3 separate regions of the Homo sapiens genome follow, and regions 2 and 3 are each reported to be linked to region 1. Evidence: microRNA targets listed by miRTarBase, many of them from high-throughput screens and not tested one by one. Region 1 holds a microRNA gene; each other region holds the end of a gene's coding sequence.
The links. Region 1 holds the annotated microRNA hsa-miR-26a-5p (UUCAAGUAAUCCAGGAUAGGCU, at 1,579-1,600, opposite strand). A microRNA usually pairs through its seed, bases 2 to 8, with sites in the 3' UTR of a target mRNA and lowers its output. Matches are read on the target gene's strand: a 7mer-m8 pairs with bases 2 to 8, a 7mer-A1 pairs with bases 2 to 7 and ends in A, and an 8mer does both.

Region 1 (3,193 bases):
CTGCAGCAGCTGGCTGGAGAAGGATTTCAGAAAGGTGTGTGCCTGGAGTACCCAAAGGCATACCCTTCCTTTATCCTTGGCATAGGCCTTACAACACTGAGGAAAGGCCATGGTTTGGCAATGGAGTCTTCAATAGTCTTCATCCCTACACAACTCAGTGGCTCTTAGGGTGACAGGAGAGGAGACAAGCTAACTTGGGAAGAGTCTTGGTCTTTCAGCTTCTCCCCCACTGAAACACTATACACTGGGGCCACAGTTCATGGCAAAACACACACACAAACACACACTCTCTCACAGTCAAACACACATCTCAACAAGTTGGCGGCAGGTAGCTCTGGGTATCATTGGTCTGGCATTCGCCCACTCGGCATCTAAGCTGTCCTAAAGCTCTTTCCAGTTACTTCCCGCTGTTTCCGGGCCGTGTGGTGAGGCACTCCAGCTTCTACTCTGTCACGCTGATCGTAAAGGCACAGTGTGGGAAAGTCCCCTACTGGGATGGCCGTCGCTTGGAAGCAGGGCAGGCTAAGGGGCCCGCAGCTGCCCAAGGCTGGTGTAGACGTCCTCTGCTCCGCTCAGCTCCTCAAAGATTGGGATCAGGTTCAGCAACTCAGTGTCTGCCATGTCATCAAACCAGGACTGCACAGGCACCTGGTGGGGGGAAGATGTGGTGTCAATCTCCCGACTGCTGCTTCCCCCTCCCTCGCCCCAGAGCCCTAGAGGGTGGCTGGGTCTTCCTGGAGGGGTGTACTTCTCTGGTGGAGCCCACAGTTCCAGTCTGCTTCCTCTCCCAATCCCTACCGTGGAGACGCATCAGGAGCACTCACTGCATTCTCGGGGTGGAATATGTAAGAAGCAGGCGAGTTGTCCAGGATGAGGGTCTTTCTCAGGTCCCTCCCCAGGCGGCTGAGGTCCTTGACGTAGCAGCCCTGGTGGAACACGCAAGACTCACGGAATAGGCGGGCCCGGAACACCCCACACCGGTCCAGCAGGTCTGTCACAGGGTCGGCATACTAGGAGGAGAGAAGATGCCTTAGTTTGGATACACTCCTGGTCCTCCTGTATAACCCTAGGGACCAAAAGGGAGCTGCTGGACCACCCCCGTGGCCACCACACCCACTCCTGGTTCTTCCCTCTCACCCCTAGGTACCTTGGCCAGGCTGGCAGTGAAGAGAACACATTCAAAGAGTTCCCCCATGCGTCTCAGGAACTCATCCACATAAGGCCTCTTGAGCACATACACCTGAGGAAGAGCAGAGCAGCCTGTTGGAGGCATCCCTGTGATGAAGGTTTGCAGTACTGGGTACCTTCACCAGTTACACAGCAGCAAGGAGCTCTCAACCCCTGCAGCCCAGCCTCCTGGGCTACCTGGCTGGAAGCCTGCGGCCCCCTGAGACCCCACAGACCCGGAGAACTGGCTGTACCCCTCACCAGGCTTCCAATGGATCAGTGGTCCCAACCTCAACCTGGCTCAGGAAGAAGCGCACACACCATGTCCCAGGAGCCATCTCTGTTTCCGGCGGCGGACCATCAGCTGCCTCCAGAAACAAGTAATCAAGAATAGGCCTCACAGATGGAAACAGCCTATCCTGGATTACTTGAATCCAGCCACAGCCTCTATGGGAGCTTTCTGTCCTTGGCTCCGACAGGACAGTCTGTCCAGGTCATGATTAGGTAATGAATTGCACCAGGGAGAAGTGACTTTTTCCCCTCAATGACCATAGACTAGACAGACACCCTGCCGAGTCTTGCTCTGCACCCGATCTTGTGCTTGCTTCTGCCAGCCACCACTAACACCTTTGTCCACCCTTACGATCTTGCACATTTTGGGAAGTCCTTTGGCCACCTGACCCCCCATCGGTCTGCATTCTATTGCTTCCATGACTCTAGCCTACACAGCTGCTACTAGAACCATTTCCAAAAAGGTCCTTTTTCTTTTCTTTATTTACTTATTTTTTTTAGAGATGGGGTCTTGCTATGTGAGGCCAGGCTGGTTGTGAACTTGTGGGCTCAGGCATTCCTCCTGCCTTGGCCTCCCAGAGTGTTGGGATGACAGGTGTAAGCCACGGCACCTGACTCCCAAAGCTCCTTTACCTGCATTACTCCCGAGCTCAAAGAGAGTCGGCCTGCTGTGACTCTCCCTCCTAGAGTAGGCCTGAACTGGCCACCAACTCACCAGACCACTCAGAGCTCTGCAGGAACCCTCTGTTCTAGGCAGCCACAACTTAACTTCTGTTAGCCTGCCATTCCTTCGACCTCCAACAAGCCCCTTCCTCATCCCAGCTTTCATCAAGTCTGGCATCCTTTCACCCACCTTGGGCAGGTAGTGCTCCCTCATTTTAATCTCATCCTTTTAAAAATTATTCATACCCTTCCTTGTTAGCCAGGAGTTCACAGTGTATATCTGTTTGAAAATATGCCTTCATCTTTTCTACAAGGGTTTAGCACATCCCTATACCCTCAGCTAGACTGTCAAAGGGCTGCTGGACCAAGCCTAGTCCTGACCGGGGCCTGGCGCTGGGCATGGCAGGCCTTCTGGGCAAGCAAGCTGAGTAAATGGTCTTTCACTAGCAGTGTCACATGATCCTTAACCTGGGACTGCCTGGGCTGCAGGCTGGAGCCTGGTCTGTTTAGATTTGAGTGCTCTTTACATTGACAGACACACACTGAGCACTTCCTCAGGCAGAATCCAATGGAGGGCCCCAGGGAAGGCAGTCAGAGAAGGCTTCACAGAGGAGGAGATGTCTGGGCTGGGGAGGAAGAAAGTCACTAGCTATTCACAGTGGGGGTGGCAGGGGGAGCATGGGCAAGAGGGCATTCCGGGCAGAGAAAATGGTTACTACTGATTTCCCTGCCTGTTACAGGCAAAGAGATACCTGGTTAAGGTATCTTAACAGGTATAGATACCTTTCTTAAGGAACAGAGAAATGTAATAAATCATTTAACAGTGCTGGCCACGTGAGGGGATGGTGGTTAACAAACGATAGCTATTATTATTATTAAATAAAATGTAAACTATTCTTTTAAACAGCTTGGTTGCAAAGAGAAAACAAGGGAGACAGCTGGGTGGGATATGGGGCTGAAACTCTTTTTTTAAGGTGAGAAAGCCTTGAGTGAAAGATACCAATAAAAAGGGGAGGCTGGAGTTATAGAAAAGGGATCAACTGACAGAACCCAAGCCCTGAGATGGGTGGAG
Region 2 (3,000 bases), not on the chromosome of region 1:
TTGAACTGAGGCAGCTTTTAAAAGACTTGCCTGATCATTTAGAGCACTCCCATTGAGGTTAAATTAGACTTGAATCTGTAATGATTCTCGTAACTGTTCCTGGTGTGTGTCCAGCACAATGTTGCTGGGCAGAGCAGAGGGGCAGAGGCTCAGGTATGTACTTCATTGACAAGTGGGCAAGGCCATCCTGGGTACCACATTGGCTTAATGATCTCTTCATTGTGAAGTCCGGCTACCTCGTTTGCATAAGAACTACAGTAATCAGGCAAGGCATTGTCAGAATTGGGAGGAATAAAATCAGTGAGTCTGGAAGGAGTGCTCTGTATACAATTGCAAAGAACAAAATGGTCATCTTTAAGGTACCTGATTGCATGCACTTAAATGCAGATTATTTTGGAGTTTGAAAAGGGACTATTAATGAAATCTTTCTTTTCCCTCCTTTCTCTTTTTCCCTTCCCCGCCACTGATTCAGTGAGCTGGAGATTGGATCACAGGTATAATTCAAGCTTTTCATGTAGTCATGTAGATCACTAGACTCCTTGGTGTACTGACGTAGCAATTTAAAAGCAGATCATGTGTAGTACATCTAGAAGTAGATTTACAAATATTCTGAAGAGTTGTAACCTTTTAAAATACTAACAGTGACATGGTTTTGTTTTTAAGGTTTAGCAATATTTAGCCCATTATTTTTGTTTTATTCTTAACTTGAATGTTTGTAAATTTTATTTCTTGATGCTTTCATTGTGTTATGATAACATCAAAATAACTTGATATTCTAGGTTACTAATAATTGTTGTGCATGAGTGTTACTACTTTTGGAATTGAAGACTTTAAAGAATTTTAAAGGCAGTTGTTGACTAAACTTCTTTCTCTTGATTCACAGCCGAAGGAGTAAAGGTGCTGCAATGATGTTAGCTGTGGCCACTGTGGATTTTTCGCAAGAACATTAATAAACTAAAAACTTCATGTGTCTGGTTGTTTGAAATGTATTTGCAGTTTCCTGGGACTGCTAGGAGGTTAGTCTGCTGATTTCAGTTGCTGTCCAAGTTCACATGCTCCATGAAGCATTCAGTGAAAACTTAATGTCATGGGGTGGTGTTTGTTTGCTGCTTGGTTTATAGCTTAGGTGGGTTCATCTGGGAGTCAAGCTTGTAAATGCTGTGTTAAGAACCATGTCCGCGGTGGACGCAGTGTAGTGGCTCACAGTCATCAGCACTTTTGGGAGGTTTGGGTGGGATGATTACACTTAAGCCCAGGAGCTCGAGGCTACAGTGAGGTGTTTTTTTTTTCGAGACAGGGTCTAGCTTTGTTACCTAGGCTGGTCTTGATTGAACTCGGGCTCAAGCGATCCTCCTACCTTGGCCACATAAAGTACTGGCATGAGCGACCACGTCTGGCTTAGAGTCTAAAAAGTACCATGTCTGGATAAACTGGAGAAATCTCAGGAAGCAGTAGAGAGCTGAAAGACTTGGTTGGGCATGAAGGGGACTCAGGAAAAGCAATACCGTGAAGGCAGAAGGGTTGAGGTTGCAGGAAGGAAGGGTAGTGGAATGTTTTGGAGAAAAGATGGTCACAGCCCCTGCATGGAGCACCTACAGACAGGAGGGCAGGGCTGAGAAGAGTTAAGTCATGGGGCTGGGCCTGCTGGCCAGGGGGTGGTTGGAGTTCTGTTTTCATATCTACAGAGGCTGTGTACTTCGGTTTGTGGGGCCTCTGGCCCTGTAGGTTCTCTTGCTAAGGAATCTGCTACTACTTTGCTAGGACCAGGAAATGGCTTACTAGTACAGAACGTGTGGAAGAATGGGGTCTTTGATGTGATTTGACATTTTTTGATGAACAGTGCATACCAGGCTGAAGGTAATGCTAGGGGCAGCAAAGGTTGGGGTTTGAGATGCAGTTTCCTGTGACTGAGCTGGAGTGTGGAAGCAGAGAAGGCACCCTGTGAGCAGCTTGCAGAGGCAAGGTGGTGAGGATCCTGACAGTGCTGCAGGGATGGGATGGGATGGGATGGGACAGGACGTGGAGCTGGGGGTGGTTGCTAAGTTGATGCAGGGAGAGTGGAAGGAAGCAATTGAGAACTGAAGGGTAGGAAATAGTTTCTGATGTGAAGAAAAAGGGCATAGCTGCAGAGAGCCTGAATGATTGAAGGTTGGCATCAAAGTCACGAAGTGGGGAGGCTTTTCTGTTCAGCTGTGCTCAGGGCAGAAGTTGTAGTCTTTCAGCCAGTAGCCTTGGGAAGGGAGGTGGGATGAAACTCAGGCTTGGCCTATTTTTCCAGAGGATCCACTTGGGTTGTGATATTATAGAAAATGTGGCAGTCTTGCTGTGAGCCTTGTTAGGCATAACATTTGGAAACTTGGCAAATTTTACGTAAAGGTCTGGATTTCCAGCCTCTTGAAATACCAGAAGCAGCAGTAGTAGCCCACCTTCCTGTTTGATAACAATTGGCAGGGCTCCAGGCTGGCTGCATCTGTTGGGACAGGTATTCTCTGGTCTCCACAGCCTTTGCTCCTACGGCCAGCTAACACCCTCCTCTACCTGCCCTCTGGTCTTCTGTCCCTGCTGCCTGCTTCTCTTCCATCTAGTCCATCCAAGTGTTTTTTGGGGAAGTCACCTGGTACCTTGTTAGGGTTAATTTGTCTTTTAAATTGGGCTCCCAAGGGTATCTGCTAGCTACCCTGGCTCACAAGGCTATTTTGAGGCTGAGGATGTAACAACTGTGAAAACAGTTTGGAAACTAGTGCTAAGCAATTGTTTGTCAGGAAGCAGGGACTTGTGGGAACTCAAACTGTGGACAGATTCAGCACATTGTAGGCCCTCACAGTAACCAGGCTACCCTGTGCTGTCAGCAGGCTTTGGAAGAGCCTCCATAAAATGCAAACTTGACTTTACTAAGCTGAATCAATATTGAGGGAGCACATCCCTTCCTTCAGCTTGTCACTGATGGGAAGCTGTGGCTTAGAGAGAGCAGGGATCTTTGAAGAGTGATGAGAAACTCAG
Region 3 (3,000 bases), not on the chromosome of region 1:
TGTGTGGCTGTGGGAAGCTATTTATTTGGTGTAAGAACTGAAACCGGCTGGGTGCAGTGGCTCACGCCTGTCATCCCAGCACTTTGGGAGGCCGAGGCGGGTAGATCACGAGGTCAAGAGATGGAAACCATCCTGGCCAACGTGGTGAAACCCCGTCTCTACTAAAAATACAAAAATTAGCCGGGAGTGGTGGCACGTGCCTGTACTCCCAGCTACTCGGGAGGCTGAGGCAGGAGAATCGCTTGAACCTGAGAGGCGGAGGTTGCAGTGAGCCGAGATCACGCCACTGCACTCTAGCCTGGCAACAGAGCGAGACTCTGTCTCAAAAAAAAGTAAAACCAAGAATCTGACTGGATTGCTAATATTCTCAACCAGATGACTAAATAAGTTAAATTTCATCCCAGTTTCTGATTTTTATCAAATTGTGTGGAATAGCATGGCTTTATTTTGAGAGTCATAATTACTTTATGTGCGACTACTACTTACTCTCATTGAATTCTTACCTAATCAATGGGCTAATAGTAACAAGTAATAAAAGCCATATCATTTCTCATTAACCTTTTATTTTTAACTTAGTTTTACAATAAACAGAAAAGAAGTTATCATTAAAAAAATACCATAGCTGTCAAGTTTAAATGAGGTTCTTATTAAACAAAGCAGGAACACTATATCCTATAATTACATCTTTACTTTTATATACAAGAACTGTGTGCAAAGTGCTTTTCAAACTATAAAATAAGACTTTGGAACAGGATAGAAATGGTTATCCCTAGGAGTTAGTTATCCCAGACTGCTTGTAATGATTCACAACTGCTTACACTCTTAATTTGCATTTTATTTATTTATATACTAAGAGAAAAGACACTTTTTACTGATACCAAATTGATATCTCATTTTTGAAAATAATCTTTGATCCACAGGTCTAAATGTTATTTTTACATATAAATTCAGTTGCTTGCTTCACTTTTTCCTAAATAAATAGGGAACACTTTTTTAAAAGCAAATAGTAGTAGATCCCTTTAGACAGACATATTTTAATCAGTATGGGATTAAATAATTAAAGTTATTTGAAAGAAAAAAATAAGGAAAAAGAGTTTGGGAAAAGTAAATTGTATTCTTATACTTTTCAGGCAAACAAAGAACCATTCTGTATACTAAAGACAGATTATTTCTTATTTAAAACACTGTGAACATATGATGTTAAACCCAACATCATACATCTTGAGAATGCTTAAAAATTATTTGCTACAGGCCAGGTGCAGTGGCTCACGCCTCTAATCCCAGCACTTTGGGAGGCCGAGGCAGGCAGATCACCTGAGGTTGGGAGTTTGAGATCAGCCTTACCAACATGGAGAAACCCCGTCTCTACTAAAAATACAAAATTAGCCAGGCATGGTGGTGCATGCCTGTAATCCCAGCTACTTGGGAGTGAGGCAGGAGAATCACTTGAACCCAGGAGGTGGAAGTTGCAGTGAGCCAAGATCACGCCATTGCCCTCCAGCCTGGGCAACAAGAGAGAAACTCCATTTAAAAAAAAAAATTATTTGTTACAAAGACTGCATCAAAGAAATCTTCAAAGCACAAGGTACATCTAAGTGAGCAGGAAGTTTTGGAAGGCATACAGGAAAAGTCTCCAAGGATCTAAATTGTAGTCTTCTTTTTGGTCTAGATGAGAGAGGTGGGGAAGAGGGACTTAAATTTCTGTTAGCTGGGCATGCCTTATTCCTATGGAAGCATTTGGCCCGTTAGCTTGCAAATCCCTCCAGTACTCCTGTGAAGTAGGTGTATCTAAAATAGTATACCCCGAAGGAAAAACTGAGGCACTAAGAGGTTAAGAGTCCAGTCTATATAGTTCATCAGTTGCAGAAAAGTGATTTTCGTGTGTTTCCTTTTTGACTGTTGTAAAAACAGTATAAATAAGTTTTCATTTTATATTTCAAAGCACCCTATGAAGCAGACACTAGATATCCTCAGTTAAACAAAAATGATTACAAAGGAATACATTTATATGATTGAATAAAAACCTGATTAATCATCTACAGGCTCAGAATACACTTTTAAACCTACATGAAGCTCATTCTTCACCATTTCCATCAGTGGGTTATGTCTAGCCTGCAAATCATTTGTAAAAACTCAGTCTGGTACATAGGACTCCACTTTTTAATAATGATGCCTGAACACCAAACTCAAGAGTTGTGAATGCCCAAGAAAGATTATGGGCAGCCCACAAAGTGAATATGACCATTCTTCCTGTGGTTTTCTACTACATGCCATGGCAACTCCGTGACTAAGATATAAAGTCGATTACATCTCATTTGAAATTCACTCCTGGTTTGCATTCTTTCTTTTATTTAATTTAGAAAATTAAAAATAATAACTTATAAATTTGATCTCATTATCACAATGGTACCTTTGAAAAGCAGCTTATGTTACTCTATGGAAGATAATCAGGTAAACATGTTACCAAATGATCATTAATAATTTAATGTCCTTCAAGTTCAAGGGCAGGGTAAATCTGTGTATACTACTTATAACCTAGTAGAGATTGATTATTCAAGTATCAGCAATATTAGTCCTTAAAATGTTATCGTTTGTGTAGTGCAAAATATATATGTGTATATATGTACACAAACTAAACTACTGGACAACAAAAAGCAATGTAATCATCACAAACTAAGATTTTCTTGTGAACACCACAATCCAGTTCATTCTGAGGTCATCCAGTTCCAGTAGTCTTCTTGAGGAAAACACCATTTTCCTCAGTTCAGTTTTCTTTAAAAAGAAAATAAAAACCAATTTCCTGTGAGTATGAATGCAAATAATTCTCTGGATGGTAACATAATAATAATAACATACAAATTCAAAATAAAACCATAATATTACCAACAGTCTTTATAGAACTACATCATATGACTTGCAGCCTGATAGGAAAGATCCAATTACAAGTGCTGAAATTACCAAACAGTTTTAAATTATTTATTTATTTATTTACTGGGGCAA

Region 2: miRTarBase lists RPS24 as a target of hsa-miR-26a-5p. The part of its 3' UTR that is shown has no 7-base or 8-base seed match.
Region 3: the mRNA of ACBD5 is a reported target of hsa-miR-26a-5p. Seed matches in the 3' UTR shown: 8mer at 2,553-2,560 and 7mer-A1 at 2,492-2,498.

The regions. Positions count from the first base shown.
Region 1 is chr12:57,823,080-57,826,272 of GRCh38, forward strand. It overlaps MIR26A2 (microRNA 26a-2), which reads right to left and starts at 1,613; the gene lies at 1,530-1,613. CTDSP2 (CTD small phosphatase 2) reads right to left here. Exons shown (of 8, transcript NM_005730.4): 6 at 1,148-1,240; 7 at 825-1,010; 8 at 1-648. The coding sequence ends at 523.
Region 2 is chr10:78,039,732-78,042,731 of GRCh38, forward strand. RPS24 (ribosomal protein S24) reads left to right here. Exons shown (of 6, transcript NM_033022.4): 5 at 473-494; 6 at 884-966. The coding sequence ends at 475. Among named protein-coding and RNA genes, the nearest start is that of RPS24, 7.4 kb to the left of the region's middle. RefSeq lists enhancers at 1-169, 170-679, 1,000-1,501, 1,570-1,619, 2,900-3,000.
Region 3 is chr10:27,194,671-27,197,670 of GRCh38, forward strand. It overlaps ACBD5 (acyl-CoA binding domain containing 5), which reads right to left. Exons shown (of 13, transcript NM_145698.5): 13 at 544-2,772. The coding sequence ends at 2,760. Among named protein-coding and RNA genes, the nearest start is that of MASTL, 41 kb to the left of the region's middle.